6 separate regions of the Homo sapiens genome follow, and regions 1, 2, 3, 4 and 5 are each linked to region 6. Evidence: fine-mapped expression QTL. A gene starts in region 6. Each other region holds a variant in brackets. All regions are shown on one strand. Distances are from middle to middle.

Region 1 (5,148 bases), 83 kb after region 6:
TGCACCTGGCGTCTGGGGTCCCTTTTATAAGAGCATTAATGCCATGAGGACAGAGCCCTCACGAACTCATCATCTCCCAAAGGCCCCACCTTCTAACACTGTCACACGAAGGATCCAGTTTCAATGTATGAATTGTATAGAAAACATTCAGACCACAGTCATAAGAATTTCAAGATGAGATCCAGGGTGGGCCCTAAATTCAGCGACTGCTGTCCTTACAGGGGAAAGGAAAGGGCGACGTGAGACACAGGGGAGAAGACTGTCTGAGGAAGGCAGGCAGAGCCGCAGAGATTTAGAGTTATGCAACCCCAGCCAAGAAACACCACAAGCCACCAAAAATTAGAAGAGGTAAGCAATTCTTCCCTAGAGCTTTCCCATAAAGAGAACATGGCCCTGCTGATTTTGCAGAAAAGAGAAACTGAGGCACCAAACTACATCAGCACTCCCTGGGCATGGAAGGCTGGGCGCACAGCAGCACCAGCCAGGGCAGAGACGGTGCTGGAAGTCGATGCCCTGCCTCCCAGCTGAAGCCTTCCTACCGCCTCCCTCGGGTGCTTCCTTTCACTCAGCCCCTTCAGAGCCAGAAGGCGTGGCCCACAGCAGTGTAGGAGTGCCCACGGCCCCGGGACCCCTGGCTGTAACCACACCCTCAGCTGCACCCTCAGGAGACCTTGCCTCCTGCTCCCTCTCCAGCGGCAGCGAGGGCAGTGCCAAGCTCACACCCTCCCAGAAGTGATTTCATGCCCCATAAGACGGGCAATCAAAAATAATAGACACACAGCAACCTGCCTGGGGCCTGCTGCTGCGGCGGGCGGCTGCTGAGGTGGCTACCTGGAAGATAAACCAATTCCCAGCCCCGGTGGGGAGAAATAACAGCATCAGTGAGGAGCAGGAGCTTCATCTTAGTCTGCAAAGCCCCAGCCAATAAGCAGGCTAAAAATAAGCACCTCTCCCAGCTGCAGCAGCACCCTCCCTTTCCTGACATGAGCTGGTCACGTGAGTTTCTCAGACTCTGGTGGGTTTCTCATGTCTAGGCAGGTGTCTGTCTGCTCAGTGGCCTTGCCTCAGATCTGGCTGGGGTGGCCTCAATGTGGGGAGCACAGGCTGCGGAGTGAGCCTAGGGAAAGGGTATGAGGACCTTCTGACTCCTCTGGGCTCCCTGTGGGTCCTTGGCTCGGTCATGCAGCCCCAGACTGCTTCCTGTCTGTGCTGAGCATCTGACTGTCACTGCTGAAGGACATTCTGAGTGCCATGCCAGAGCTGGGCACCCAGGGCCATCTGTCTGCACTTGGCGGGGAGGCACGTGCAGACCCCTCGCTGTGGCTGGTTCTCTGCGGGCACAGTCTGTGATCCACAGAGAGTAGACCCTGGGTGGGCCTGTGTGTCCAGCATGTATTATGTGTGCCTCCAAAAAAATGAGTTGGGAGAGGTGGGGATGGTTAATGGGTACAAAAGAAAATAGAAAGAATGAATAAGACCTACTGTTTGATAGCACAATAAGGTGATTATAGTCAGTAATAACTGAATTGCACATTTTAAAATAAAGAGTGTCATTGGATTGTTTGTAACTCAAAGGATAAATACTTGAGGAGACGGATACCCCATTCTCCATGATGTGCTTACTTCACATTGCATGTCTGTATCAAAACGTCCCATTTACCTCATAAATATATACACCTACTACGTACCCACAAAAATTTAAATTTTTTTTTAAAAGAATGAATCTGGTTTAAAGCAAAACAAAACAAAGAACCAACATTTTAGTAAGGAATTGGGTAAGTGAGGATTCTGCAGAACACCCACCTGGGGTAGGGGTTAGGATGTGGATTTATCTCAATTCTGCTGCCCTTGATGAGAAAACATTTTAATAATGCCTCTTTCGAAAGATAGTCAAAATATGAGCCTCACAGAAATATTCCTTAATTGCTTCTTGTCACACACTGCATGAACTCTCAGGGGGACCTTTTGGCCCCCTCACCTTGGGATCATGCACACCCAGGCTCCCACTTGAGCCATGTCCTTGGTCCAGCTGGCTTCAGGTTTGCAACGTCTCTTACCTGGAGAACCGCCAAAGTCTCCTCACCATCTTCCTGCCTTCAGTCGCTGTCTTCCTCCCCTTTGGGAGTTAGTCAGTCCACTCTCCAGCTTAAAAAAGTTCAAAGACTTCTCCCACTGCTGGGCCTGACCCTTTCTAATCTGTGGCCAACCTCCTGCTTCACCCATGCCTGCTCACGCACCTTGTTCTTCAGCAAAGGAGACTGCATGGAGCCCACTCAATGCTCCTCATTTCTTCTTGCACCCTATGCCTTTGCTAAACATGGTCCCCACTTTCTAGAACACCCTGTCCACCTTCGTTGTCTCTTGAAATTCTACTGTATTTTCAAAGCCCAGCCTGTGTGTTACTCTCTATCCCCAATTCTTCTCAGAGAAGAATTGGCCACTCCCTCTCCTTGGGTCTCCCTAGCACTTTCCACGGTTTTGTCACAGTGCCTGCATTTCTCGTTATTGTTAGTTTCATGTATATCTCCATGGCTGGATGGCTCAATCCTGAAGGTCCGACAGAAAACAGTGCCTGGCACATAATAGGTGGCTAATAAATGAAGCCAAACTGCAGTTGACCTGCAGACCCGTGATACAAATGCTTTTTATTGCAAGCCACTGAGATTTTTGAGAGTGCTTTATTACACAGCCTTATCAAGCCAAGAGCTGACTGAGACAAATTGCCCAGGGAGCCTGGGGCAATATGGGACTGCACACTTAGCACTGGCAGAACGCTATTCCAAAGGCATGGTGGGGCTGAGTGCCGGTGTTAGGTGTGAGGTAAGGTTGCTCTTGACATGGTGGTAGAGGGCTGATGTCATGTCAGACCACCCAGGTTCAAGTCCTGGTGCTGCCACTTGCTGCTGTGTGTGTGTCTCTGATAGAGTTACCCTCTCAGCAACTCATTTTTCCTTGTCTATAAAATATGAATCATAATACAAGGATCTGTCTCACGGGGTTGT[C/T]GTGAAAAACAGGGGAAACCATGCCGAGCCCAGTGCCTGGCACACAGTGGGGGCTCCATGAGTGTCTGCTCTCAGTGGTCATGCATCGTTAGGAGTGACTGTCATTGGCTCCTCCCTCCCTGTGTCCAGCCTGCCTGCTCCCTGCCCAGTTCTGTGCAGGGTGTGCGTGTCTGTCGAGAGAAGCTCAAAGTGGGGGATGATGTTTCTCTGTTCATTTTCCATGTTTCCTCCTGAACTCCAGTGTTTCACAAGGGGCTGGTAGCGGCCTGTCCTGTCTTCCCCTAGAACTGCTCAGCATGGCTCCAGCTGTTCTCCGTAGAGCGAGGATAGGAAGTCACATCTCAGAAAGCAAGGGATGGGGACAGCAGTGACAGTGGTGACTTCATTCTCCCGGCTCTTACGGGTCTTGTGGACCCACTTCCAGGACCACCAGTTTCTAGAGATGGACAAGAGTCTTGAAGTGTCCACAGTCACCTCCGTGTCGGTGACATCGGCAGATAGTCATTCTAACCACATTCCCAGGAAACGGGGACTGTGGGGATTCAGGGATGGGGTGGCATAGACTCCGCCTTCTGGAAGCTTCTGGTCTGGCTAGGGTAGCCCGAGGGACATAGGAAATAGCTGAGTGAGTCATAGCATCGTGTACTGACAGGACTCTTGAAACTTCCCAGCCAAATGTCCCTTGAAAAAGGGACACCAGAATCTCCCAGGAAACACCTGCGAGGCCTGGCACGATGGCAAGGGCTTGAATAAATGAAAAGGGTGGCTGAGCTGCCTGGGCTTTCCTGGGCTTGCTGCTGTCCTTCTCCTGATGATCCACCCTGTGGAAAGCTGCAACTGTCCCATTGCCACCAAGGGACCACAGCGGCTGTTCTTTCACTGGCTCTTCCTGGGAGGGAGCAGCCCTCCCCAGCAGCCTCCTTCCAGGCTGGGTGGCAAATGGCTCCCAAACAGAAAGACCCCTCCTGAGCTGCCATTTCCCAGGGATCTCAGCGCCCCAAAGCCAGACATGGGGAGGAGGGAGGAATCAGCTCCTGTAGATCTCTGATGCTGGCATGAGTGGGCAAGCCCCCAGCTCCCTGGACTCCTGCCCCTCTCTGCAAATGCAGGAGGAGATAGGATGATGGCAGAACATCTGGGCTGGAAGACTGTCAGGCGAGGAGAGTGGGGCATCTGAACAGACAGGTTGAGTAGCTTGCCCAAGGCCACACAGCTGGTGAGTGTTGAGGCCTGTTGCTAGGTGCTCAGTAGATTCCCCCGGAGTGACTGGAGGTGGGAGCATTAGAGGCAAGACTAAGAGAGCCTTGGGAAGGAGACAAAGAGAGACACCTCCAGGCAATCTAAATGGACTAACACCAACAGAGGCACCTGGAGCTGAGAGCAGATGCCAGGCCAGGGGAGATGGGCTAGACACGGAGGCGGAGGAAATGCTCTTCTGAAAATGATGTTGAAGGGCAGAGAAGAGAAGGACCCTAGAGAGACAGATGGAGAGGAATCAACAGATGGGCCCGCTGTCCCGCAGGGCGACGGCCCTCTCGCCACGCGGCCCCTAAGCTTGAAGGGAAGCATGTGGGGAATTCGCAGTGTGGGGGATGGGGCAGTGAGGGCCGCATCCTGACCAGAATTGCCCAGGCTTCTGGTGAGAGGAACCAAGTGCAGCAGGGGCTGCTGGCCAGGCCTGGGAGCCGAGGTTTTGGCTGCCACTTGCCTACCACGGACACCCCCCACCAAAATGCCTCTCTTTGTCAGGACCAATAGACACAACCTCAGGGGCCATTTTTGAAGGGTTTCAAACCACCTGGGCAAGTTCCTTCTGTGGGTGGGCAGCCCAGACAGCAAGGCTGGGCACAGCTGTCCCACCCAGCATGGCCATGCAGCCTTGCGAAGGCAAGGGCACAGGCTCCTGTCACGCCTGACAGCTGTGGCTGGTGTGGGGTGGGGAAGGCCAGGCAGGACAGGAGGGCAGCAGCAGGCCAAGCCAGACCCCTGAGGCCTGTGCTTGCAGCCTGTGTCCCGACCTCACAGTGTCCTGGGACCATCCAAGCCCACTCACTCCTGTCTGGCAGCCAGCCTTGGATGTCACAGAGCACCACGCCCCATGTCCTCGGCCAGCACCACCGTCCGGCCTCGCCAGCCACAAAGGGCC
Region 2 (5,000 bases), 28 kb before region 6:
CTAATTGCCTCACCTATGTAAGGAGGGTACCTTCTCACTAGGGTTACTGTGAAAATTAAGTGTATGTGTAAACTGTTCCTCACAACCCAAGATATTAAACACTCAGTGAATGGTAGCTTACAGCATCATTTTTATTATTAATAGAAATTCTCTCAGCCGGGCACAGTGGCTCACGCCTGTAATCCCAGCACTTTGGGAGGCCAAGGTGGGCCGATTACCTGAGATCGGGAGTTCAAGACCAACCTGACCAACATGGAGAAACCCCGTCTCTACTAAAAATACAAAATCAGCTGGGCATGGTGGCACATGCCTGTAATCCCAACTATTTGGGAGGCTGAGGCAGGAGAATCACTTGAACCCAGGAGGCGGAGGTTGCGGTGAGCCAAGATCGCACCACTGCACTCCAGTCTTGGCAACAAGAGCGAAACTCCATCTCAAAAACAAAAAAAAATAAAAGAAATTCTCTCAGGGCTTAACTGAAATTTAGGACTTGAACTTCAGTATGTACAAAACCAGAGTAGAGTTCTAGGCTGGATCTAGGTATGTGTGTTGTGAGCAGCATTCAGATTAGAATCAACAAAGAACAACCCTCCCAGTGCTCTTCACTCCCCCAGCCTGTCTAAGCCAGTGATGGCACATATGCATATGCTACCCCTATTCGGGTTGTCCACCCATGGCAGACATTGCCAGTCAGTCACCGCGCTGCTTTGGCTGAGGGCTCAGATCCTTCTCAAAACAGGGATCCTCGCTACTACTACCAGTTGAGAGGATTTGGCACTTAACGGAAACCTATTTTCCATCCTTGGTCTAAGTTTGCAAAGGATTATTTATTTAAGTACCCTCAGGACATCAGCCAGTCTTTTATTCTGTGAAGTAAAATAACATAAGGTCTCTTTGTCTCTGATTCCTCATGGTCCCACACATTAGGCAGTATTACATTCAGTGGAAAACCAAAGGTCTGGAGATAATGCCAGCAAGTCCTAACCTATGCAAGATGCCTTTTCTAGACTTGGCTATGGACTGATAAGGTGATCACCAAGGGAGGGGTGACACCAGGACTCCACACATACCTCATGGATGTCTAAGGAATAATGGTTTGACCATCTTTGCAGTGTTCTCCACTTGCCATAGGGGTATTTGGAGACTAATCTGCCAACAGTGAGGGCTCTCTGCTTTTTCTGTTGATGCAGGTCCTCTGTGACATTGTCACAGCAACTTGAAAATGAGGGATACGGGTATGAACTAACTAGATCCTGGCTGGTACAGGCTTCCTTATCCTCTGACAGAATAGCAGTGCTCCTTTGTGTCTCCATACTTTCCTACCATGACCACAACAATCCAGGATTGCCATAGATTTGTCCTTGACCTGCATTAAGTTGAAGAGTTGGAAGATAGATAGCACAGTGCCAGCAGAAGCACTAAAGAAAGAACTAGGTGGTAACACAGGCTGGGCACAGTGGCTCACACCTGTAATTCCAACACTTTGGAGGCCGAGGCAGGGGGATCACATGAGGCCAGGATTTCAAGACCAGCCTGGCCAACATGGCGAAACCTTGTCTCTAATGAAAATACAAAAGTTAGCCTGGTGTGATGGCACATCCCTGTAGTCCCAGCTACTCAGGAGGCTGAGGCCAAGAATTGGTGGCAGAGGTTGCAGTGAGCCGAAATCGTGCCACTGCACTCCAGCCTGGGCAACAGAGCCAAGACTCTCCAAAAAAAAGAAGAAAAAAATGAAAATGAAAAAGAAAAATCTAGGTGTTAAACAAGACTGAAAAGGATAGGAAAAGGCCTCCAAGAAGAAGCGTTTGGGTCACTGTAGCAAGAACAGGTACCTCTTGAACCGAGAATGAAAGAAGGAACTGGAAACTGCTTCACTGTGCTGTTTTCCTTTTCAGCTTAACATATGCCTTCCTCTTCTCCCCTTTCCCTTCTCTTGATGCAGTCGAATTCTTTTTAATGGTTACCAGAAAAGGATTTGGCATTGGGTGTACAGCTAGAGGTGGAAGATCATGCAAATAAGACCAACAGGTCCCTCCATTCCCCACCAGCAGCCTGCATGTGCCATTTCACTTCACACATCTCTATAATGCTTGCGGTGCTGGGGTGCCGTTACCTCTCCAGTTAAATAAATCTCAAACCACCGACCCAGGGTTTTCATAGCAGTGCTGCAGCCATATATGAGGAAATGCAACAAACAGTCCATTAGCACTGATTGGATATGGATTTTTGGCCTGGCCACCTGCCACTTGGTAATTTTAGAATAGGGTCACTTTTGGAATTGAAGATGCCTTGTGGGAGGGGACTGGTGTTTGCTAAATAGCTGTATCTTACCATCATGCCCTTTCACAGCCAAGCTCCCTACCTCTGGAGTGAGGGGCTGGTCTCGTGGCCTGCCTGGCAGAGAGGGCTAGAGCTCCTTCTTCATCAGCTTCCAGGGCTGCAGACGTGGCCATTTCCAAACACCCAGGGTGCACTTAACCACTTCCTCCTCCTAATCTCAGCATTTCCACTCTAACACATCAGCAGCTTTGTAACTTACTTTCTTTTTTTTTTTTTTTTGCCCTATGTTTTGGCCCTTGATGTATTTGTGGGAGGAAGATGGGTAGACTGGCTAACTGTGATATCAACTGATTTCTGAATGATACAGTTATACCCTGAGTCAGTTTCTGGAGATTAAGCAAGGGTGCCAGGAGCGTTGTGAAGGGCTCTCATTGTTTTTACATGTCAGTGACTGCCTGCCTTGGTTTTGCCAGCTGCAA[AAT/A]GGAAGAACTAAGCCCTCTTTTGCCTAGAGAATGCTAAAAGGTGAATACTCAGGTGTGGTGGGGAGGTTTCTAAGGACACCCAGACCCCAGATGATGCACTAAGAGTGCTGTGTGACCTGAAGAGGGACCTCTGGTCAGAACATTTTTTTCTGTCACCAGCAACTGAATAATTATGCCCAGTTGGTAGAATAGGAGAACTGTTGGCCTGGGACCCTGAGATCTGACCATGATGTTCCCCATTGGACTAAACTTTGGCCAATATTTCCTTTTCTCTATGCCATGAAATCTTTTGCATTGCCTTTTTCTGGACATGAGTAGAGTACTGACTTTGGCTTCTGATAAGCAGCATATCCTAAAGAGAATCTGTCCCAGAGGACTTAGGGGTTCCTTCAGTCTTTGCCGCTCTGGTTGCACTATTCCTGAGCTAAAGATGAAAACAGACATCAGATGTTCATCTTTGTGTTATGGGTTGTTATCCCCAGCCATCATAACCGTGTGTCTTATTTCCTGGTTGTCTGCATAAGGCCGTATTTACATAGAGTTTGCAATCTTGCCTGTGTGGTCAGTATCCGTTTCACCCTAGGTTTACAGCCAGACCTCTAACATTTGGACCCAGGCCTCTGATATTCATGCCATGTCTTTTGCCCAGAGTGTTTAAAAGGACAGGCCTGTGCCCTAGCTGCCGTAATCTTTGTTATTTTCAAGTACGAAGCAAGATAGCTTTGCCTTATTTGCTGTCTGTCTATATTTTCTGGGCATGTCAGCCAGGGAGTGAGGTTAGTAAGGTATAGCTAGAGATTGCCCTTGAAGCTTTTGATTCTTGCTTTCCTGTCCAGAATTATAGTCAGTTGTTGAGATAGCCTATCCCAACACCACTAACGTGTGACAACTTCAAAAATTCATGAGGCCTTGGGATTCACAGCACCTCTCAATAATCTAGCCTTGTATCAAGCGAAGTAGCCCTGTTGGAGCATTGCCAGCATGTGAGGTGCAGAGGGGCCCTCCGTAGCCAGCCCTTCAGCCCTTCCAGGTGTGAGAAAGGGCTCTTCATGCCACACTCACATGTGCACCCACGCATGCCTAACACCCAGTGACTGGAAGACTGCCTCCAGGGAAATACATGCAGGCTTACACCGCCCAGACAGTCTTTCATCTGTCCTTCCTCTTTCATTCTTTCACCCGCCCCCTTGTGTTTCTGTAATTTGTACAGTATCGTTGAAAGGTGTTGAAGAGATCAATAGCAATTCACCTTTTCCCTTATTGATTCAAGTGATGGCAAGAAAAAATGGCAGGCAGTACCAATTCATTTGTCATGAGCTATCCATTTCCTACCAAGCCACCAGTGACCTCTCCCAATGCCTGTTAGGTTGCTGATTTACAGTTGGGATTACTTCTTTTTCCAACCTGCTTTGATAGGAATGAGAGAACCACTGTGTTTGACTCCTGTAATCAAAGCTGGGTGAAGAAGGAGACTGCAGGTACTGAACAGGAAAACTGCTGTGGAGCCTGGTCTCCAACTCCGAGGCTTGCTTTATTTGAGGAGCTCCCCACCTGTGCTGGGCTCTCTAGCAGAGGCAATACGGCATCAGCTGATGGAGCTGCAGTCTCCCCCAGCACTTCTCAAGTCCCCACCCCCAGCCCCCGACCTTTTTCTAAAGGACACAGCCTTCCTTTGTTATCTTTTTCCACAGAATGTAAAATGAGTGTGCTGAGTGAAAAGTCCATGACCCCTGTGAACTGGCTCTGCTTTTGCCAAAGGTGCAAAGGTTTGTCATTCCCTTCATGAGCCTTCAAGTAGTAACTTCAGCTGACCCTGGGGGAATGTGAGGTGCCCAGGGTCTGGCCTTAGCAGGGCTGTGGGTGAAGGAAGTGTTCTTGTTCTTAGAGGGTTCTGTATCCACCAGGAATGTAGAGTGGAGACAGTTCTTCTCAGCTTCTTTTTCTGCCCTAGAGAAACAAGCATGGGAAGGGTGCGTGCGTGCGTGCGTGTGTGTGTGTGTTCAGCCTCACTGGGAACAGTATCTTGACTTTCACTTGGAAAAGGTAATGGTGGATCCTTGTGTGTGTGTGCGTGCATGTGTGTTTTGACCAGCCTCACTGGGAACAGTCTCTTGACTCTCATTTGGGGAAAGGTAATGGGGTATCCTCCCCCCACCTCCCAAATAGGACAGTTAGCTGCCACACACTTACATGCACATTTTAAAAACTGTGCATTGCGAATGGCAAATATGTATTAGT
Region 3 (5,000 bases), 270 kb before region 6:
CTACTTTGGAGGCTGAGGTGGTTGCAGTGAGCTATGACTGAGCCACTGCACTCCAGCTGGGGTGACAGAGCAAGACCCTGTCGCAAAAAAAAAAAAAACAAAAAAACAAAAAAACAAAAAACCCAAGAGAAAGAAAAGCATAAATTGAAACCTACTGACATACATTGCTGATTCCTATTAATTTCAAATAATGATACAATTTTTTATGGGATAGTATGTAATTCTAAACTGAATATTAGCGATTTCATAAGAGCAAACTGAAGGTTGCCATTGACTTTTTACTTATTGATAATAAAAAACACTTTTTGTTTCTTTTGCCATAGGAGCTATCACCTACCCTGTGGCCATTCCCACACATTATGTGTACTTCCACTTCCACATCTCTTTTGGTTAGCTCCACTGAGTAGGTACAGTGTGTGTGTGAATGCGAAGTATTTTAATAGTGCAATTTGGCTTTTCATGGTCCTTAACTCTGGAAGGAACTCCATGCTCATTAAGTTTGTGGTGTTGCTGTATTGCAGATGCTGCTGAAGGCTTCCTCTGCCCTAGGCTGCCATCTTTAGTTTGCCTGCATAGAGTAGAGTAACAAAACCAAACCAAATCAGAACTTTGACACCGATGTGGCAGGCTGTGCTTATTATCAGAATATCTTTTAATGTTTGTGTATTTGAGTTTTCGTTGAGCTGATTTTCAGAAATGCTGTCTTTTTAAATTTCCCATTTGCATTTCTGTGTCAAAGTAAAGGATTTGGAATCTGAAAAAGAATAATGTCTAACTTGGTACCAAATAATGTTTCCAGGACTGGTTTGAAGGATCAGATGTGAGTTTTTCAAATTGGAACCTTTTCTAATGGGCCCCTGGGAAATGTCTTAGCTAAATTGCAACAGTGACTGGTGAAGTCGATCGAGGTAAATTGCTCCCATTGCTGAGGGTTCAGAAACCAGGCAGTGGAAGCTAAAATTTCAGGGGAAATCGGGCGGAACTATTGCAGATGGTTTCCCCCTTGAATAGAGATGGGGGTTGGTGTCGCTGTTGATGAATGGGAGGAGATTAAAGCCTGATTTTTGCAACGAGTTGGTAACATTCTCTTTGGGAGACTAAAGAGGAATTTATGAGAAGACCATCAGAATCAGTTAGGTGATTATTTTCAATTTTGACTACAAATGACATCTAGGAACACACCATGATGCCACTGGACTCTGTAGTGGTCTTTATTAGAAAAGTAGCAACAAGAGACTTTTTGTGATGTTTACCCTCAGTGAGCTCAGAGGTCGAGGAATTGCCCAGAATCTTGCAGATTTTCATTTAACAGTCAACCATTGAGCATTTCTGATTTGCATTTAAAAAAAATGAACCTGGCTGGTTTTGACTATTTGTGGTGATATGTTAGAATACAGATCCTCATGCAAGTATTTGTGATTGGCACGTCTCACTCAGACATATGTCTCACTCAGACATCTTCTTTGTGTTTGAGGAAGCCCCTTAAGCTCTGTGCACAGTGAGAATAGTAAAATATCACAGAATCGTGTGGCAACATTAGGCCCTTAGTAATTGGTAAAACTTGATACTAACAACATCTGTCTGTCCATTTTTCTCAATCTCTTGTAAGTGCTGAGAGTACTGAAGTAAGGACCAAGCTTTAAATCCTTCAATTAAATATTTCGAGGCTGAGGCCTGGAGAGAATTTCTTGTATTTTAGCTCCCTATGACTCTTGGAAATTCTTCCTTTATAGAAGTTTTAGAAGATTAAGGCCTCCAATTAAGAAAGATAAAGGATCTAATGGCTCCCTTAGCTGATGAGCATTGTGTAACCATCAATTGAATGGGCTGAACTTAATATAATTAATAGGTTTGCAGCACTCCCACACCTATTATAAGATCATATTTTGACCCATTTTTCATTTCTTCTTTATAAGCATTTAGATGTTTATGTGGCATTCACATTTTAATATTCCTTGGATGAACATGGCATCATATGATTAGAAAACCAAAATTCATTTTTGATGGCTGTTGTGGTCAGATCGTGTCCTCTAAAATTCATGTGCTGGAAACTTAATTTCTAGTGTTAACAGTGCCGAGAGGTAGGGGCTTTGGGAAAGTTTAATGGATTAATGCCCACATATAAGGGCTTGTTGGAGGGAATTTGGGCTCTTTGTTGCCCCTTCCATCCTTTCTACCATGTGAGGACGCCACACTCCTCCCCTTTGGAAGATGCAGCAAACAAGGTGCCATCTTGGAAGCAAAGACTAAGCTCTTACCACACATCGAACCTGTTGGTGCCCTGATCTTGGACTCCCAGCCTACAGAACTGTGAGGAAGTTAAGTTTCTGTTATTTATAAAATTACCAAGTCTCAGGTATTGTGTTATAGCAGCATAAATGGACTAAGACAATGCCAAAGGTGGCACTTGCCATAGATCTGCTGTGATGATATCAACTCTTTGCTTTCCAGGAGTTAAAGCTTTGGATTCTGATGGGTTGATTTTCTTTTGTGTGGACCCTTGTACTGGTTACTATTTAATAGTTCTTTTCTTATCTTAGGCCGGGCGCGATGGCTCATGCCTTTAATCCCAGCACTTTGGGAGGCCAAGGCGGGCGAATCACGAGGTCAGGAGATCAAGACCATCCTGGCCAACGTGGTGAA[A/G]CCCCGTCTCTACTAAAAATACAAAAAATTAGCCGGGCGTGGTGGCGGGCACCTGTAGTCCCAGCTACTCAGGAGGCTGAGGCAGAATGGCGTGAACCCAGGAGGCGGAGCTTGCAGTGAGCCGAGATGGCGCCACTGCACTCCAGCCTGGGTGACAAAGCGAGACTTTGTCTCAAAAAAAAAAAAAAAAAAAAAAAAAAAAAATAGTTTTTTTCTTATCTTACCGTCTCCCAGAATTGCTATTGCCAAAATTTGGTGCAACTATGTATTTTTCTGTTTTCCCCACCACTGTTTGTATGTAATTTAGGCTGAGTTCCTCCAGGCTCTGGTGCCTGCGTTTTGTGGTTTGTAAAGTGCTGTGTACTTTTATAGCCTCTATAAATAACAAAATACAGCTCATGGCAATAACACTGTGGCACCCTAGATGTTTAGATATAGTGTGTGTTAGATGGGAAGAGAGAGAGATATATCTAGGGTACAAAGTGGCTAGCTTGCAAAACTTAATCGTCACTTACTCATCCTACTTCTCATTTTTGTTCATTTGTTGATGGCATTCCTTTATCTTTGGGACATTTTATATGTAATGACTAGGTGTGGTGCCGTTCTCCTCTTCTCAGTATCCCTTCCCCCATCCCTTTCCACTGTTTAATGTAGTAGACATGAAGAGGAGAAGAGCTGGTTCACAGTGTGGTGAGATTTCCAACCAGATGCTTGCATGGTGGGGGCCCAGCTTCCTATCCTGGTCTTCCTGTTTTGTTTCAGTAGATCACCACAGCTGCCTTCTTATATGTGGGAGATGTGAAGCTAGGCCCTCGAATCTATTTCTATTAGCCCTGTCAATATAGTTTGATAAAATGCAAATGTCTTTGAAATGGTAGACTTCCAATTAAAAGGCTCCAGCAGGGAGTCTGTTTTGATAATGAAAGTGATTAAGAAGGTTCTATTTTCTTCCATTGGTATGAATGTTCAGCTAAAATAGCTTGGCTTTTTGTCTGTAATTGGACTCTGCTAATGAGGTTCTAATAACTCTTAGGTTCTAATAATGATTCTAACAAATCTATTAATTCTCTTCATTGATCAGTGCTGGGGACCAGAACACAGTCTCTGGATAGCAGTGTCATATAAGGTTGTAAATGTCATTCATTTCCCTTTCTCCTTCATTCTAAAGAATCAATGGAGCAAATGTTTATTTCCTTAAATTCTATAATCTTATATAGATACATCTTACCTCTGAGTAGAGCCAGACATATATGGTATATCAGTACGCATGTTAGGAATTGCCCTCAAACCCTGCAGTTTATATTAGGCCTTGAAGCATTGGTTTTGGTGTGGAAAGAGGGGCTGCAGAATAAACACATTCACAGAAGAAGACTAGGCACCATCTGAAGCCTAATTTTTAGAACGTTCATTCTGTTCAACCCCTTTCCATACGTACCTGTCAGCCCCTGGTAAAACTAGGCTTGATAATTGAATATGCCGCAGCTCTTTAGCCAGCATAATCTGGGACATAGAATAGGTTGGTGGGGGTGAGCTGCCATGGTTATCTCTCACCACCTCATTAGCGGCCTGTCACCTTCCATCTTTCGTTATTAGAGGCAATGTTTGTGTTCTCTGATTTTAATCAAAATCTGTCTTTTAACTGACTACTTTTCTATCTTGTTCACTGTTCATTCTCAAAGGTCCTTATACTTTTCCCTTATAACAAACTTGTGAGGCAGAATTACAAGTAGGAGAGGATTACAAAGGGATTAGAGTGGCAAATACCTGTTTTGGGTATGCTCAGTGACTCAGAATGGCCACCAAACTTGCTTTGTTATGTAAGTTCATAATTTCCATTTATAATTGTGGCCTTGTCAGTATAGCCGTCTGAATCACTGGGGACTTTTATGGAACAGAGAGGTTTTCTATGATCTTGATAGTTGAGGAATGTTTTCAAATGAAGGGATAAAACTGACTAAAAATTTAGAGACGATGAGTCTTTGTGTGAACATCCCTGTGGTTGGAAGAGCCATTTTTCTCAGGTTTCCAGCTTGTATAGATGGTGCTCATATTATCTATAGCTAATCAAATAGCAGAGTTGTGGTTTTTATTTAAATATCAGAATGACAAATTACAATAGAATTATATTTTACCCAGGGGTAGAATCTAAGGTCAGAGTATGAGACGAAAATTGTATATAGTGAAAATTATTCTTGAAAATCCATTTAGTGTCGTTTTATTCAAACTGAAGTGCTTCAGGATGGTCAGATGCATTGTCTAGGATCAGGAACAGTTTATAGTCAAGTCCTTTCTCTTTTAAGTACAATTGGGAGGGGACAGGGCTGGATGGATAACCATCAATATTTAAAGTTATTTCC
Region 4 (5,148 bases), 120 kb after region 6:
GGTTTTGGTTGAAATGGATCGGCCTCACCTATTCAGAAGGGCCTTCCCTGTCCACTCCTTCCCTCAGCCATTCTGTCTCAGTCCCTGTTTATTTCCTTCATTGCACTTTTGTCCTCATGCTTATTGTCTGACACCCCCACCAGGACATAAGCTCCATCTGGGCAGAACATTTATTAAATGCTCAATGAATGTTTGTTGAGGAATGAATGAATGAGGCCTTTCTTAGCCTAGGAGTTGTGTATCTATTTCCCTAGAAGGGAGACTTCTGTATCCTAGATTGAAATAATTTCCATCAATTCCGGCTGGGTATGGTGGCTCACATCTGCAATCTCAATACTTTGGGAGGCCGAGGTGGACAGATTGCTTAAGTCCAGGAGTTGGAGACCAGCTTGGGCAACATGGTGAAACCTTGTCTCTACAAAAAATACAAAAAGTAGCTGGGCATGGTAGCATGCATCTGTGATCCCAGCTACTTGGGAGGCTGAGGTGAGAGGATCACTTGTGCCCAGGAGTCAAGGCTGTCTGCAGTGAGCTGTGATCATGCCACTGAACTCCAGCCTAGGCAACAGAGCTGGACTCTGTCTCGGAAAAAAAAAAATCCCATCAGTTCCTCCTCAGTGTTTTACTCTCCTCTTGCATTCACTGCTGTTATTAACCACCAGGAGTTCCTTTTCCAAATGTGTTGTCAGCCTTAAGGTCATTATGCAAGGAAGCAAGGAGACAGCTGCAACTTAACCAGTGTAAGGAAGAAAGGTTTCCCCTTCTCAGCAGGTGAAGGGGCCCCTTTCTTCTAGTATAAAAAGCCCCAATCTGTATTAACAAAAAAGATTAGTCATGTCAACATCCAAGTTTAGTGACTGTCACAAATACAGAAAGTTTCAACTCACCTATTTTTCTAAGTAACAGGAAACAGCCTCAGCTAATAAATACAACAGACAGCAATGTACACACGGTAAGGCTGGGGTGTAACTATTTGAAAGGCTCAGTCACCAGGCCAGATTGGCTAGATTATGCTGCAAAACAAAGCAATAGCCAAATCTCAGTGTCTGAAAACAACCCAGGTTTGTTTTATGCTGTCATTACACCTCCATCAGGGGCTGACAGGGCCATCGGACACGGGGACACTCAGGGATTCAGGACGGTGGAGCAGCTGCATCTTGAATGTTGCCGGTTGCCGTGCTGGAAAGAGACCTCTGGATGTTCTCACATCAGCAGCTGGAGGAGTGCAGGGGGCCAACCAGATCAGTGATGTGGGCCCAGCCCCAATCACAAGGGACAGGCCATGCAATCCCGTCTTGTGCCTGGAAGGCAGAGAGGAGAGGGCTGGGAGTATTTGATGAACGGCAGTAATGACAACCACACAGTGGGAAGAAAATGCATTCCCTTTAGAGGCAAGACAAGACCGGGGTAGGAGAGGAGAGGGCGAGAAAGATGGGAGCTGGGAAAGTAAGATCTTGTAGGTGCTTCCACAGCCACCCACCACAAGTCCTGTGTCACTGTGGCTAACAATCTGGTCACGTGCTCTTGTTCAGTTGAGCTGTAAATTCCTGTGTGTCATCTATTGTCATGGTGTTTGAAAAGCTGATTATGCACTATTCGTAGCTCTTCAACTACTCTTTGCTCTTAAACATGTATAGCACCCTTCTAAATAGGTAAGTTACCGCAGTCCTCCTCAGGTAAGATTATCCTCCAAGCTCTTGCTTCAGTGAGCAGAGGCATATAATTGCTGGGGACATACCAAGCTGAGACATGAACTCCGTAACAAACAGTTGCACACATTTCACACATGGTAGCTTTAAAGACTGTGAATGAATCCAAGACGACTCCGATGTTCTTCAGGGCTAACCCTAAGACCTCTTTTCAATTCATGTCCAGTTGGGTCAGTATCTTTGTTTGCATCAGTGCTGTCTAACAGAAACTTCTGCAATAATTGCAATATTCTCTGCACCATCTAATGTGGTAGCCCCTAGCCACACCAGGCTACAGAACACTTGAAATGTGGCTAATACCACTGAGGCACTGCATTTTTCATTTTATTTATTTATTTATTTATTTTTATTTTTATTTTTATTTTTTTTGAGATGGAGTCTCACTCTGTCGCCCAGGCTAGAGTGCAGTGGCACAATCTTGGCTCACTGCAACCTCCACTTCCCAGGTTCACACCATTCTCCTGCCTCAGCCTCCGGAGTACCTGGGACTACAGTCACCCGCCACCACGCCCGGCTAATTTTTTGTGTTTTTAGTAGAGATGGGGTTTCACTGTGTTAGCCAGGATGGTTTCGATCTCCTGACCTCGTGATCCACCCGCCTCGGCCTCCCAAAGTGCTGGGATTACAGGTGTGAGCCACCGTGCCCTGCTATTTTATTTAATTTTAAATAATTAAAATTTAAATAGCCACATGTGGCCTGACGTGGTGATTTAAGCCTGTAATCCTAGTACTTTGAGAGGCTGACGTGAGAGGATTTTTTGTGCTCAGGAGTTTGAGACCAGCATGGGCAACACAGTGAGACCTCGTCTCTACTAAAAATCAGGACAATCAGCCAGGTGTGGTGGTGCATGCCTGTAGTCCCAGTTACTTGGCAGGCTGAGGCGGGAGGATCTCTTGAGCCCAGGAGGTCAAGGCTGCAGCAAGCTGTGGTCACGCCACTGTACTCCAACCTGGGCAACAGAGTGAGACCCTGTTTCAAAAAAATAATAATAATAAGATAAAATAAATAGCCACATGCAGCTAGTGGCTACCATATAGGACAGTGCAGCTTTGGAGTAAGAAGGAAAATCAGAGCTTTGTATTCAGCCCTATCTTTGCTATGGCAAGAAAAAGATAGCTGTGTGCCAGGAAGACCAATGTAAATGCCGGCTCTGGTGTGTTTGGTTCCAACATTTTCTTGTGACTTACACTGCCCTGCTCACAGTCTCCCATCCAGGGAAGGTGTCTAGACTGTTCCTTGCAGAAGAGTGGCCTCTAATTGGATAGAGAGGTGGACTGCTGACCAAAAGGCATTCTTCTATTCACCGGTTGGCCAGAGTGAAAGAAGGTGGCCTATGATGGTGTCTCTGAAGGGAGCAGTGATGATTGGCTGAGTCTATCAGGTTGCTTTCTTTAGAATTTTTAAAGGTTTAGCCAATCAGCAGTGAGAAGAGAGAAACAGAAACAAGGAAATTATGGCTGAGAGACCTGGGTCCCTGACTGCTGTC[G/A]TGTCTTAATCCCAGCTCCCAACCACCTGTAACCCTAAACAAACATGCAAATAAAATACCCTTTCCCTTAAGTCGGATGGAGGGACTGCTTGCTCTTTGTTTCAAAAGAAATTAAGTAACTAAGATTCCTCCAACTCAGGGTATCTCAGCCTGGGCACTATTGACATTTGGGGCCAGATAATTCTTTGTCGTGGGGACAGTCCTATTAATTGCAGGATGCCCAGACATCCCTGGCCTCTACCCACCAGGTGCCAGTAGCACCCCACACCCACCCACCACCAGTTCTGATAACCAAAAAATGCATCCAGACGGTGTCCAATGTCCCAGGGTGGGAGTGGATGGGAGCAAAAATCTTCCACCCTTGAGAATCAGTTCTCTAACTGTATCCCAAATCCACCTCCTCGGGCCTTCTTAGGAGGAAAAGATAAGAGCAGCAGTTTATTCCTAGCAGAATCACAGCTCTCCCTCCTTCTCTTCTCCAGGCTAAATAAAGATAGCTTTTTTAGTCTTTTTCCTAGACTCTGTTTCACAGATACTGATGGAGACATCTAAAGATGAGACTTGGAACCATTTGGTTGGGAGGGACTCTTCTCTTACTGTACCTATTTATAGAGCCGGGGGTGGGGTGGGCAGAAACATCTGTGCAGCCCTGTGACAGTGGAAGCTCCCTGGTCAAGGAAGTGGCCGTGCTAGAAAGGAGCATCTCCAAGCTCCGCACTGGGCTGAGTGGCAAACGGCTGATTTATAAGAAGTGGGGAAGCGATCCTCTGAGGCCAGCAGGAGTTGTCTCTTACCATCCCTCGGAGCATTCCAACTGTTTCGGGGCTCTCTCCACTGGTATTCTCAGGGACACCTCAAACTAAATCAAAATAGAACTGCTTGTCTTCTTTCTCAGATCCATGCTTTTGCCAGTATTTTCCACTGTGGCCACCCACTTTCTCAAATTGAAAGTCCGAGGGTCTCCTTGTCTCATCCCTCTCCCTCACTGTCACATCTAACCCAACACTGAGTGCTCCAAATTCTTCCTCCTTGAATCTGCCCCTCCCTCCATTCCCTCCACCATGATTTTTGTCCCTGGATTATTTGATCAGCCTTTGAACTATTCAAATTGTCTCATTTCTCCCCTGCTCCCATCCACTCTGCACACTGCAGCCAATATGATCTTTAAAAAATGTATGAATCTGTTTCATGCCTGTTTAAAACCCTCCAGTTGCTACCTATTGTCTTAGGATGAGATCAGAAGTTCTCAACAGTGCAAGGCTCCCCGGGATAGGCCTGCTCTGCATCCAAGTCTCACCTCCTTTCACTCTTCCTCCCAAGGGATCGCTCCAGCCCCCATGGTCTTTGTTCAGCTCCTCAAAGATGCTATGCCCAGTGTGGACTCAGGGCCTTTGCACATCCGGGCTCTGTGCACATCCATCCTCCATCTCCTCCTCTGGAGAACTCCTAGCTATTCTTCAGGTCTCTTCAGTTTAGATCACCTCCTAAGAAGACCTTGCTAAGGAGGCCTTAGGAAGTCCAACCAGGTTCAATCCCCTTGTCATACCCTCTCGTAGAACCATGTAATTTTATTGTCTAAAGTTAGGTCCCCCCAAAACAAAGTATGGGTTAAAGACTTGAGAACAGGTCATGTATTGGAGATGCAAGCACAGAAATCAAGAGTACAGAAATGGGGAGAGATGGAGAAGGAGGAGAGGCCCGTGGAAGGGAAGGGGGTGTTACTAAGGTTGCTGGGTTTACAAGGAGGCTGACTACTCCAGGACTCTCTCCTGTCATTTCCAAGAGGGCTCACACAGAGTTGGAGAAGAACCCGGGGCAGGAAATGAAAACCTGTCAGTGCACAAGCTTCAAGGGGGCGACTTATGGCAAGCGATGAATTTGTGCTCATGCGGGACTGTCCACCACAGCCATGGCCGAAATCAGAGGTGGGTCAATGGCTGGGCATGGTGGCT
Region 5 (5,148 bases), 480 kb before region 6:
GAAGCTCCAAACTCTCCCACATTTTCCCGTCTTCTTCTAAGCCCTCCAAGCTGTTCCAGCATCTGCCTGTTACCCAGTCCAAAGTCTCTTCCACATTTTCAAGTATCTTTATAGCAGTACCCCACTCTCTGACATACCAATTTACTGTATTAGTCTGTTTTCACACTGCTATAAAGAACTTCCCTGAGACTGGGTGATTTATAAAGGAAAGAGGTTTAATTGACTCACAATTCCACATGGCTGGGGAGGCCTCAGGAAACTTACAATCATGGCAGAAGGGGAAGCAGGCACCTTCTTCACAAGGGGGCAGGAGAGACAGCAATGAAGGAGGAACTTCCAAACACTTATAAAACCATCAGATCTCATGAGAACTCACTGTTATGAGAACAGTATGGGGAAAACCACCCTCATGATCCCATCACCTCCCACCAGGTTCCTCCCTCTACACCTGGGGATTATAATTCAGATTACATTCAAGATGAGATTTGGCTGGGGAGACAGAGCCAAACCACATCAGAAACAGTTGTACAAGATCAGTAAATCAGTCATGTGAATCTAAGTGCAGTCCAGAGCAATTCAGCATTCTCATGTTAGCTCTCCCTCCCCTTTTCTTCATTCTGTTTAAATAGCATTCCTCATTAAAGTAATAGCACATAAGCCATTTTCATATGCTCTGCATTTTTATTATAGTAACCCAGGCTAAGCAATCAGTTAACTGAAAAAGTAAGGAAGCAAAGAACACACCAGGCATATTTTAATTTAAACATTTTATTTTAACTTAGAATGTTAATTTAAAATGTTTAAGTATGCACTCATTTGCCAACTTTCCAAAGGGGTTTTTTTAAAGATTGGATCCACTGATTAAAGTTCTATATTGTCTTTATTGACTAAATCATATCATTCTGCCCCTGGCCCCTCCCAAATCTCATCTCCATTTCACATTTCAAAAATCAATCATGCCTTCTCAACAGTCCACCAAAGTTTTAACTCATTCCAGCATTAACACATCATTTACAATTTATAGACTTAATTTATTTAAAGTAAAACAATAAATTAAAGTCTCTTTTTAAAGCAACTTGAGTGTATAATTGCTTTAGATATAGATATATAGATATATCTAGATAGATAGATAGATATTTATTCTGATATTTAACAGTGGCCCTACCAATCTCACTTGGTAGCTTTATTTTAATGAATACCTACATTAAGTTGTTACAAAGTATTTGATTTAGTTTTCATAGAAACAAATATTTTTTCAACTAAATTCTCATAGATGAATGTAGTATTTAGTTAAATTACACAATGACAATCAGAAATACAATACACATAATCAGTGTAAGAACAAATACAATTGCTTCCTATTAACATTCAGCTCTGCTGATAAAAACCAAAGGCTATGGTGTCCTAGATCAGTAGTTCCCCAAGTATGTCCCCAGACCAGCAGCATCAAAGTCCTGAGAACTTATCAGAAATGTCAAGTTCTCAGGCCCCACTCCAGACTCACAGAATCAGAAAATCTCGAGGTAATTCTGATGCACATGTAAATCGAGATCCACTGTCCTAGAGAACAGTTTAATAGCTGGGAGTATGCATGTGATGGCCATGATTAGCACACTTTACTAAGGAGATGGAGAGTCTGTTAATTTAACTAGTTTATTGAAGATCAGTTAAAAAAAAAAAAACCACTGTGTTTTAGTTAGCATTAGTTTTGGTTCCATATAATTAAAAAAACTACAGTAGCTTATATGAATATAGTTAACACTGCTGAACTGTATACTTAAAATGGTTAAGATGGTAAATTTTATATTATTTTTACTACAAAAAATAAATTTAATAAAATTAAAAATTTTAATTAAAAAACAGTGGCTGAAACAAATTAGAAATTTATTTATCTTACATCAAAGAAATCCACAAGTAGACAGTCCATGACTTGTAAGGCACTCCACTAAGTGACCAAGGACCCAGGAACCTTCCAGCTGACTCTCCACCATCCCTCATATGGGGCCCTCATCCTCATGGTCCAAAACAGCTACTAGAGCTTCAGCCACTGCATCTACATCCCAGGCAAGAGAAGAGAGCAAAAGAAAAAACAGAGGTACCCCCTCCCTTAAAAAGAGGCTTCACAGAAATCCCATACAACACTTTGTTGCAATATCTCATTGTCTAGTAGTCACTTGGTAATGCAAAGGAGCATGGCAAATGCCTTCTGGCTTGAGGCAGCAGTATGCCCACTTAAATCCTGAGATGCTATTGCTAAGGGAGAAGAGGTGAATAAATACTGGGAAATAATTAGCAGACTCTATCACATATTGTAATTGTAAAATTATACTGGCTGTTACCCAATCCTAAAATGAAGAACTCTCTC[G/A]TGTAAACATTTCTAGACATTGCTGTAGGAAAAATACACACAGATTCAGCTTTTTTAAAAATTCATTAGTTTTTTTAAATGAAAGTGGGAAGAAAAATACCCTTTGCTGAGACCTGTTACATGCTGATCATTGTGCTTTGCATCTGTCCATCACTGATTGTCCATCACCAGGTTTGATGGGAAGTCTATCTTACTTTCTGTGATAAGTAGGATGGGCTAGATTTGATGCAGTAAAAAGAAAACTCACTGGTTACTTGTTAGGAGAGAGATAAGAAGGAAGGGGAATCTTCCCCAGGGTCCCTGTCTTAGTTTAGGCTGCAATAACAGAATACCATAGCCTAGGTGGCTTAAACAACAAACAAGTATTGCTCACAATTCTGGAAGCTAGAAGACCAAGATCAAGGTGCCAGCAGATCTAATGTCTGGTGAGGGCTCTCTTCCTGGTTTAGAGATGGCTGACTTCTTGTTGTATCCCCACACAGCAGGGAAAAAGGTGGGGGGGTTGAAGAAGCCAGATGTCTTGTGACTCTTCTTATAAGGGCACTACTCCCATTCATGAAGGCTCCACCCTCATGACCTAATTACCTCCTAAAGGCTCTACCTCCTCATACCATCATATTGAGTGTTAGGATTTCAACGTATGAATTTAAGGTGGGGAAACACAAACATTCAGTCCATAACAGTTCCTATAAGTCAAAGCAAAAGATATAACCATGCCTAACTTCAGGCAGGTGACCAAGTGCCCAAGGAGAACTGGAAACATTGATGACTAGTAGCCCAGGCTCATTGAGGCCAGAAACAATGTCTTATTAACTTGGTATCTGTCATCTATCCCACATCCTCACAGATCTGAGGGTTCCAGTAAATGTTGAATTGTTTGCTCAATGGAAGTTTAAAAATCCCCTCAAATTATCTTATCAAATCAATCATCTTTCTAGGACCACCCTCCAACCCCACCAAAATTAGCTTATGCAACATTTATTTCTAGAATTCATCCAGGCAGTGAAAAAATTAAAACTTGCTGAAAATTAGATTCTGCCCAACTCCATCACCTGCTACCATCCGGGGGAAGGACTTTCCAAAACAGACCAAGCACCAGCCCTCTAGTGGAAGAAACACTTATTTTGGCTTTTGTGCTGCAGTCCAATTTGATGTGTCAAAATTCTGTCTTTCATCTGCCCTTCTACAAAACAAAACAGTAATAACAAATGTTGTTATGGGAATTAAATTTTTCAGATGATTAGGTTATATAGCAGGATAATCACTTTTGCTTTAATGAAGAATAAAGTATATGACACTGCTGGCATTGTTATTAGAGATTGTCAAATAAATAATTTAAGATGCACTGTTTATGTAAGTCCCTAATTACTTCTGGGATTTGTACAGTAAGGTAGAGTTAATGGTCTTCTCTGTCATTTCCCTTCTAATTGCATAAAATAAATAAGGCGCTCTGTTAAAGAAAAATGGGTAACTAAATCATGATGAGTCAAAACCCACCTAATTAAGACATGAATGCCAGAATTGAGCCCAAAGCTGCTCATGGGCACACTTCAAATCATTACTGGATACCTCAGAAACAAACTGTGCTTAATATACCAGGGGAAATAGCCAGTGTTATCCATCTGACTATCTTCATCAGTACATTCCTGAGCCTCTAATGTCAGAACCTCAACATATTTAGCAATGAAATGCTGGAATTAGATAACTTTACACCATATATGGAAATAAATTGTATTATGTGGGTTTCCATCCAGTTACAGGAAAAAGGGGTCTTGATCCAGACTCTAAGAGAGGGTTCTTGGATCTCACACAGGAAGAAATTCAAGGCGAGTTTCAGAGCACAGTGAAAGAAGCAAATTTATTAGAAACTACTCCATTGCAGAGTAGGGCATCTCCAGAAAGCAGGCCAAGGAACACATCATCTCTGTTTTAAGTTTTTCTTATATGGGGGTCTTGTCTATGTACAGACTAAACTAAGCTGTGACTACATGCAGGTGAGCAGAGAGCATAACAAAATGTATTATTACACTGATTTAAAGAAAACTATCTTTGACATTTCACTGGGTGAGTACATCAAAGCATAAATATAATTATCTTGAAAGCATATATTGTTATGGGTATTAGGACATCTGGACTTTCTGTTGTAGGAATGTGTCCTTGTAGGTTTTCTCAACTATAAACATCTTAGGACCATTGGTGATGACTGGCAAGGAATGTGTCTTGCTAGTTTCAAGATGACCCTGAACTTAAAATCTTGTCACTCTGGCTCTCCTAGGCTCTTGCTTCCCTAATGATCCCACCACTCAACTCTCCAGCTCAATTCTGGATCCATAAACACTCTAAAAAAGAACAACTGGGCTGGGCGCGGTGGCTCATGCCTGTAATCCCAGCACTTTGGGAGGCCAAGGCGGGTGGATCACGAGGTCAGGAGATCAAGATCATCCTGGCTAACACGGTGAAACCCCATCTCTACTAAAAATACAAAAAATTAGCCGGGTGTGGTGGCGGGCGCCTGTAGTCCCAGCTACTCGGGGGGCTGAGGCAGGAGAATGGTGTGAACCCAGGAGGCGGAGCTTGCAGTGACCCGAGATCATACCACTGCACTCCATCCAGCCTGGGTGACAGAGCAAGACTCCATCTCAAAAAAACAGAAAAAAGAAAAACTCGTCCTTGGAGCATTGTAGGCTTTTTATCTTTCTTATGATTTCCTGAATGTGTTTGCTGGTCTGGACTCTGATGCAAGAGGGTGGAGAGAGAAATGTGGTGGCCTTGAGGCACAGGAC
Region 6 (5,000 bases):
AGAGATCCTTGGGTGGCGGGAGGCGTGGCTGAGCACTGTCCCATTGGGCAGCAACCACTTCACGGAGGACATAGGGGGAGTCCGACACTTAAGTTCTGCCATCCGACCCTCAGAAATGTTGAGGTCTCGAGGTGCGTCCATGATGAAGGGGGCAGAGCACTGGAAGGAGGCCTGGTCCACCTCCACGAGGTAGCGGCCTCGCATGTGCATGGGAGCATGACAGCGGCCACAGCAGGTGGAATTGGTGGGTATATACTCTCGAAGCCACCAGGCTAGCCACAGAATGTCACAATCACAGTTCCAAGGGTTGTGGTGTAGATGCAACTCCACCAGGTACCTCAGCGGGGTAAAGAGGTCATGGGGCAAAGAAGAGAGGTTATTGTGGGCCAAGTTGAGTTCCACAAGTGAAGCCAGCCCGTCAAAAGCATTCCGCTCAATCAGGCTGACCTGTGAGTTCATGACCCAGAGCTTCTTGAGGGAGCTCAGGCCATGGAAGGAGCCAGGCCTGATCTCAGGGAAGTGGTTCCCTGACATCTCCAGCTCCTCCAGCCCCACCAGGGGGGTGAGATTGGGCATGTCTTTAATGTTGCACATGCCCAAGTTCAGATACTTGAGGTTGAACAGCCCCTCAAAAGCTCCCTCAGAGATATACTCCAGCTTCTTGAGCTCCCCCAAGTCCAGGCGCATGAGGGAGGGCACCCGGTTGAAGGCGTAAGAGGGGATGCTTTCGATGGGGTTGTTGCGAAGCCAGAGCTCCCGCAGCTTGGACAGGTATTCAAAGGCCCCGCTAGGGATGACTGTCAGCCAGTTGTCGAACAGCTCCAGGGTGTTGAGGCTGGCCAGGCCGTTGAAGGCCCCCACCTCAATCTGCCGGATGGAGTTCCTGCCCAACTGCAGGACCTCCAGGTGGTGGAGGTGGCGGAAGGTGTCGGCCTGGATCATCTGGATGTTGTTCTCCATGAGGTTGAGGTACCGGGTGTTCGAGGGAATACCCTGCGGGACCTCGGAGAGGCCCCGGCGCGTGCACACCACCTTGCTGAACTGGTTACTGCACGAGCAGACGGAGGGGCAGTTCTGGGGCCCGGCTGAGGCGGCAGCAGCGATGGCTGCACACAGAATCCACACTTGCGCCGTGAGGTAGACGAACGGGAGCAGGATGGCATTCCAGGTGTGGTGGTGCACAGTTACCTGCCACAAGAGCTTCATGGTGTGGCACGTTCATAATTCACCATCGCCTGGGATTTTGGCTCGGAAAGGAGAACCAGCCCTACCCCGGCTTAAGTGAGCTAGGAGCTCCTCTTTCCATCTGGAGAAGGAGGTGGGGAGGGGGCGATTAGAGAGACGGAGCGGATCGGCCGAAAAAAATCCTGCCAAACTCGAGCGGCCCCTGGTCTCCCAACCCACCCTCAAGGCAAGCCCTCCGAAAGCTACGACTCTCCCACACTGCAACCGTCCCCACCCAGTTCGCCGTCACCTACCTCGGAAGGAAGGCAGGAAAGCACTGGCGTGGTGTCCTTAAGCTTTCTCCACGGGAGCTGGGCACCTCGTTCCCATTCCGACTTCTTAGTTTTAATTAACAAAAGGGGGAAGTGGTGGGGGCGGGGAGGGCAGAGGGGAGGGGAGGGGAGGGGAGGGAAGGGGTGGGGGAGACAAAATGGCCTCTAGTAAATCCGGAGCCGGAGCCGGCGAAGCCGCGGAGTTGAGGCGCGCCTGGGAGAGCCAAGGCCCGGCGGGCTATGCAGGTGCATGCCCCCCCCTCCGCCCAAGGAGCGGCGCCACCAGCGCTTCCCGGCTTTGTCCTTGGACCCTGGCACCGGCTCGCTCCAGCCGCGGGGGAAGGCGCTTCATCGCCAAAGTGCGCTCCGGCGGCCCCGGCCCGCTCTGCGGGCCGCCGCCGGAGGGAGTGCGGGGGCGCCCCGAAGCCGCCCAGGCCGCACTCGCTGGATGCTGCGCTCCCTCTCCCGGCGTCGGCCGCTCCGGGCCGGCGGCAGCTGATTGCGGTCGTGAGCTCGCGGAGCGGCGAGAGTTAAGAGGAGGTGTTCGCGGCGCCTTCGCCCTCCCCAGACACACACCCCCTTTCTCCTCGCCTCTTCTCGGAGGGTGGAAGAGACAAAAACGGGGGGTCAGTTCTCCAGTCCGCCGGCTGCCGGCACGCGGGGCGGCGCTCCGTCCGGCCCCCGAGGACCAGCGGCGTGGCGGCTGCGCTCGGACCCGGTCCGCCGGCCGGAGGAGCGCGCGGCGCCCGCGGTCGCGCCCGCACCGCAGGCCCCTTCAGAGAGTCCGGGGGCGGGCGCGGGTCCGGCGGCGGCGGCGGCCGCAGCCCCCGGCGGCGCGCAACCGCCCGTCGCCGCCCGCCGCTGCCCGGCCCCCGGCGCGCCGCCGGCTCCGGCTTTGTGCGGAGGGAGCGAGTTCGCGGCTTCGGCTCCCGGCGCCCTCAGTGGCCGCGCCGCCAGCGGACTGCTGCAGCGGCGTGAGCAGCGGGGGTCGCGGCTGCGGGAAACGCTCCGGAGCCCAGGAACATAGTCCCCGCTGGCTAGCGGCGGCAGCAGCAGCAGCGGGGCCCCTGCGCGCGGCGCCCACCGTCTCCTCCTCGCGCCGGGCTCGCGGTGTTGCAGGCGGCAGCCACGCAGACTGCTCTCTCATCCTTTTGTCCTTCAGTCAGAACGTGAATGTACTGCTGACGCATACTGTTCTGGGAGAAGATTAGCGTGATGCAGTGCTCTTATGTATTAGCGCCGCTCCCCCTCCGTCGCCTGCCTCGCGGGGTTAACGCCGGCGCCTTCCAGCGCCGCGCCGGCCGGCGCCGCGCAGCCCCGCGCCTCCGGCCGCCCGTCTTCCTCTTTCCTCCTTCCTTCCTCCTCTCTTCCTCTCTCCCCCTCCCCCCTCCCCCCTCCCCGGGCCGCTTCCTCCCCGCCCCCTCTAGACGAGCGGAGCGGGGCCAGGGCGAGCGGGCGAGCGAGCCGGAGTGAGCGTCAAGTGAGGGGCCGCGCGCAAGTCGCAGGCGTTCGCAGCTATTTTGGGCCGGTCGGAGGGAGCAGTTGGGTGGCCGCTGATAGGCTGGAGCGGCGCGGGGCTGCGGCGGGAGAGCCCGCGCCGGCCCCCGCCCTCCGGCCCGCACCCGGGGCCCCCTGGCTCTGAAGAGCGGGGCTCAGGGGCCCGGCGGCCCGCGGCGGGGCTGCTGCATTTGGCCTGCCTCTCGCCCGGCCCGCGTCATCCTCACCCCCGCTGACTGCTGACGGGGCGCGGACTCGCGTTCGGAGTTCGGAACTGCGTGGTGGGGACTCGGGGGACGGCGGCCGGGGCCACGAGGCTCCCAGGACCGAGAGCCCGGGCTTCGCTGCTGCACTGCCGCCAGCCCCTCCTTCGCTTTGCCTCACCCCTCCTGTGCTCTCACTGGGGCTTTAAATGAGGGTTTCCTTAATGAGGGTTGCGGGGGCGGGAAACAGTGGCAGGAATGACCAAGTGTGATGAGCTGGGGAATGGCAACCTGGGACAGCACAGAGGCCGGCAGGAAGGATTGAGGTGAACTCCCGGAGCCCACGACACAGCCCGTTCATTCATGGAGCTGCAGCCGCGGCTTCTCAGTCTTCGCTGGCCGGAGTCGCCCCTTGCTCCCCGCTGCCCCCAGAGAACTGGGGGAAGGGAGGCGGGCGGCTGAGCCCCCTGCCCTGTGAGCTCGCCAGCCCTTCCTTGGCTAGGACTCTGAGAAGAACTGCGTAGCAGCCAGGGGTAGCGATTGGGAGTGGGGGTGGAATTCTTGCTCCTATTTCTGGTAGGAGACCCTAAGGCATTTGACAGACTAGTGTAGGAGAAGGGGACTAGGTCAGCTTTTTCCCACCCCCCTGAAAAAAGACTGCCCCTTTCTCTGCCGACTGTGGGTGAGGCAATCTAGCTGAGCCCTGGGAAGCCGGTCCAGTAGAATATAGCATGGTTTAATATCCCTTCCCTTCAAGAGCTGCCTCCAGACTCCTCAACCCACCCCTCTCCCCGTGTGATTTCTGGCAGGCTCGCTTGATAAACCCTCATCACCTGCGCGTGGGCTGTTGCTTAAGAACGAGGAGGTCCCAGATTTCTCAGCTCTCTGGTTTCTACCACACCTATTTCTGAGTATTGTCTTTTGCCCAGTAACCTGAACCTCTTTAAATACGCCATGGAATACTTGAAGTCCTGGAAACGGTTCCTTTGTAGGCAAGTTGGAGTCCCCATTCTTTGCCAAGACCTTTCTGTTATCATTTGCTGTCAAATAATAACCTTGTTAGTTTCTGTTTATTGAACCCTTACTCTGTATTCCACTGCAACCCTATTATTCATTTTATATGAGTCAAACGTTGCCTAGGGTCACTAGTAAGTGATAGTGGATTTGAGCCTCAGCACGTCTCAGATGTCAAGAAACTTGGGTGTGGAAGTGATTCCCCAAAGTATTCTCCTAGTGGGATGAGAACTCAGGTTTCATTCATCCACTTCAATAGTCATTTACTGGGATGCTTATCTACTATGTACTATCCACCATACCAAGAACTTATATCTGTTCTTGTTTAATCTTCATTTACCCAGTGAAAGTAATTGCCACACTTGTCTCCATTTCACAGATGAAGGCACTTAGCTTAGGCAGGCAAATAACTTGCCCAAGGTCACACACTAGAAAGTAACAGAGCCAGCCTTTCCATCCAGCCTTCAAACCCTGAGTCCGATGTTTTCATCACTAACAGGAATGCCCGCTGTGTCTACTCTTCATAGAGTAAATGGTGGAGGCAAGTGGAGGGGGGAGGAGAGAGAGACTGTAGGAAAGTTCAGTGAAGGATGTGTCAGAGAAGTAAGATGAAGGGTAGGAGACGGGCTGAGAAAATGAACTCTCATCAAGAAAAAGAATGAGGGAGACATGGAGGTAAGTCAAACCCTGATACTGGGGTTTAGTTCCATCTGGGCACTCAGACTTTCTGGTGAGAGGTTCTGCTCCTTTATAGCTGGCACCGACCTAGTAGAGTCATCTATTGCCTGAG

The links. PIP is the estimated chance that this variant, and not a neighbour inherited with it, causes the effect.
Region 1: its variant is fine-mapped to the expression of LRRC4 in blood mononuclear cells (TOPMed, PIP above 0.99).
Region 2: its variant is fine-mapped to the expression of LRRC4 in blood mononuclear cells (TOPMed, PIP 0.91).
Region 3: its variant is fine-mapped to the expression of LRRC4 in whole blood (TOPMed, PIP above 0.99).
Region 4: its variant is fine-mapped to the expression of LRRC4 in whole blood (TOPMed, PIP 0.98).
Region 5: its variant is fine-mapped to the expression of LRRC4 in whole blood (INTERVAL, PIP above 0.99).

The regions. Positions count from the first base shown.
Region 1 is chr7:128,111,930-128,117,077 of GRCh38, forward strand. No RefSeq gene overlaps it. Among named protein-coding and RNA genes, the nearest start is that of MIR593, 33 kb to the left of the region's middle. RefSeq lists enhancers at 3,932-4,448, 4,449-4,965. The variant C/T (reference allele first, on the strand shown) is at 3,003.
Region 2 is chr7:128,001,496-128,006,495 of GRCh38, forward strand. The region is part of intron 16 of SND1 (staphylococcal nuclease and tudor domain containing 1); the gene reads left to right. Among named protein-coding and RNA genes, the nearest start is that of SND1-IT1, 6.5 kb to the left of the region's middle. The variant AAT/A (reference allele first, on the strand shown) is at 2,760.
Region 3 is chr7:127,763,955-127,768,954 of GRCh38, forward strand. All of the region lies in intron 10 of SND1 (staphylococcal nuclease and tudor domain containing 1), which reads left to right. Among named protein-coding and RNA genes, the nearest start is that of SND1, 110 kb to the left of the region's middle. The variant A/G (reference allele first, on the strand shown) is at 2,644.
Region 4 is chr7:128,154,025-128,159,172 of GRCh38, forward strand. No RefSeq gene overlaps it. Among named protein-coding and RNA genes, the nearest start is that of MIR129-1, 51 kb to the right of the region's middle. The variant G/A (reference allele first, on the strand shown) is at 3,197.
Region 5 is chr7:127,546,995-127,552,142 of GRCh38, forward strand. All of the region lies in intron 1 of LOC105375490 (a long non-coding RNA gene), which reads right to left. Among named protein-coding and RNA genes, the nearest start is that of GCC1, 36 kb to the right of the region's middle. The variant G/A (reference allele first, on the strand shown) is at 2,366.
Region 6 is chr7:128,029,435-128,034,434 of GRCh38, forward strand. LRRC4 (leucine rich repeat containing 4) reads right to left here and starts at 2,003. Exons shown (of 2, transcript NM_022143.5): 1 at 1,479-2,003; 2 at 1-1,306. The coding sequence starts at 1,206. All of the region lies in intron 16 of SND1 (staphylococcal nuclease and tudor domain containing 1), which reads left to right. RefSeq lists silencers at 2,447-2,566, 3,217-3,286.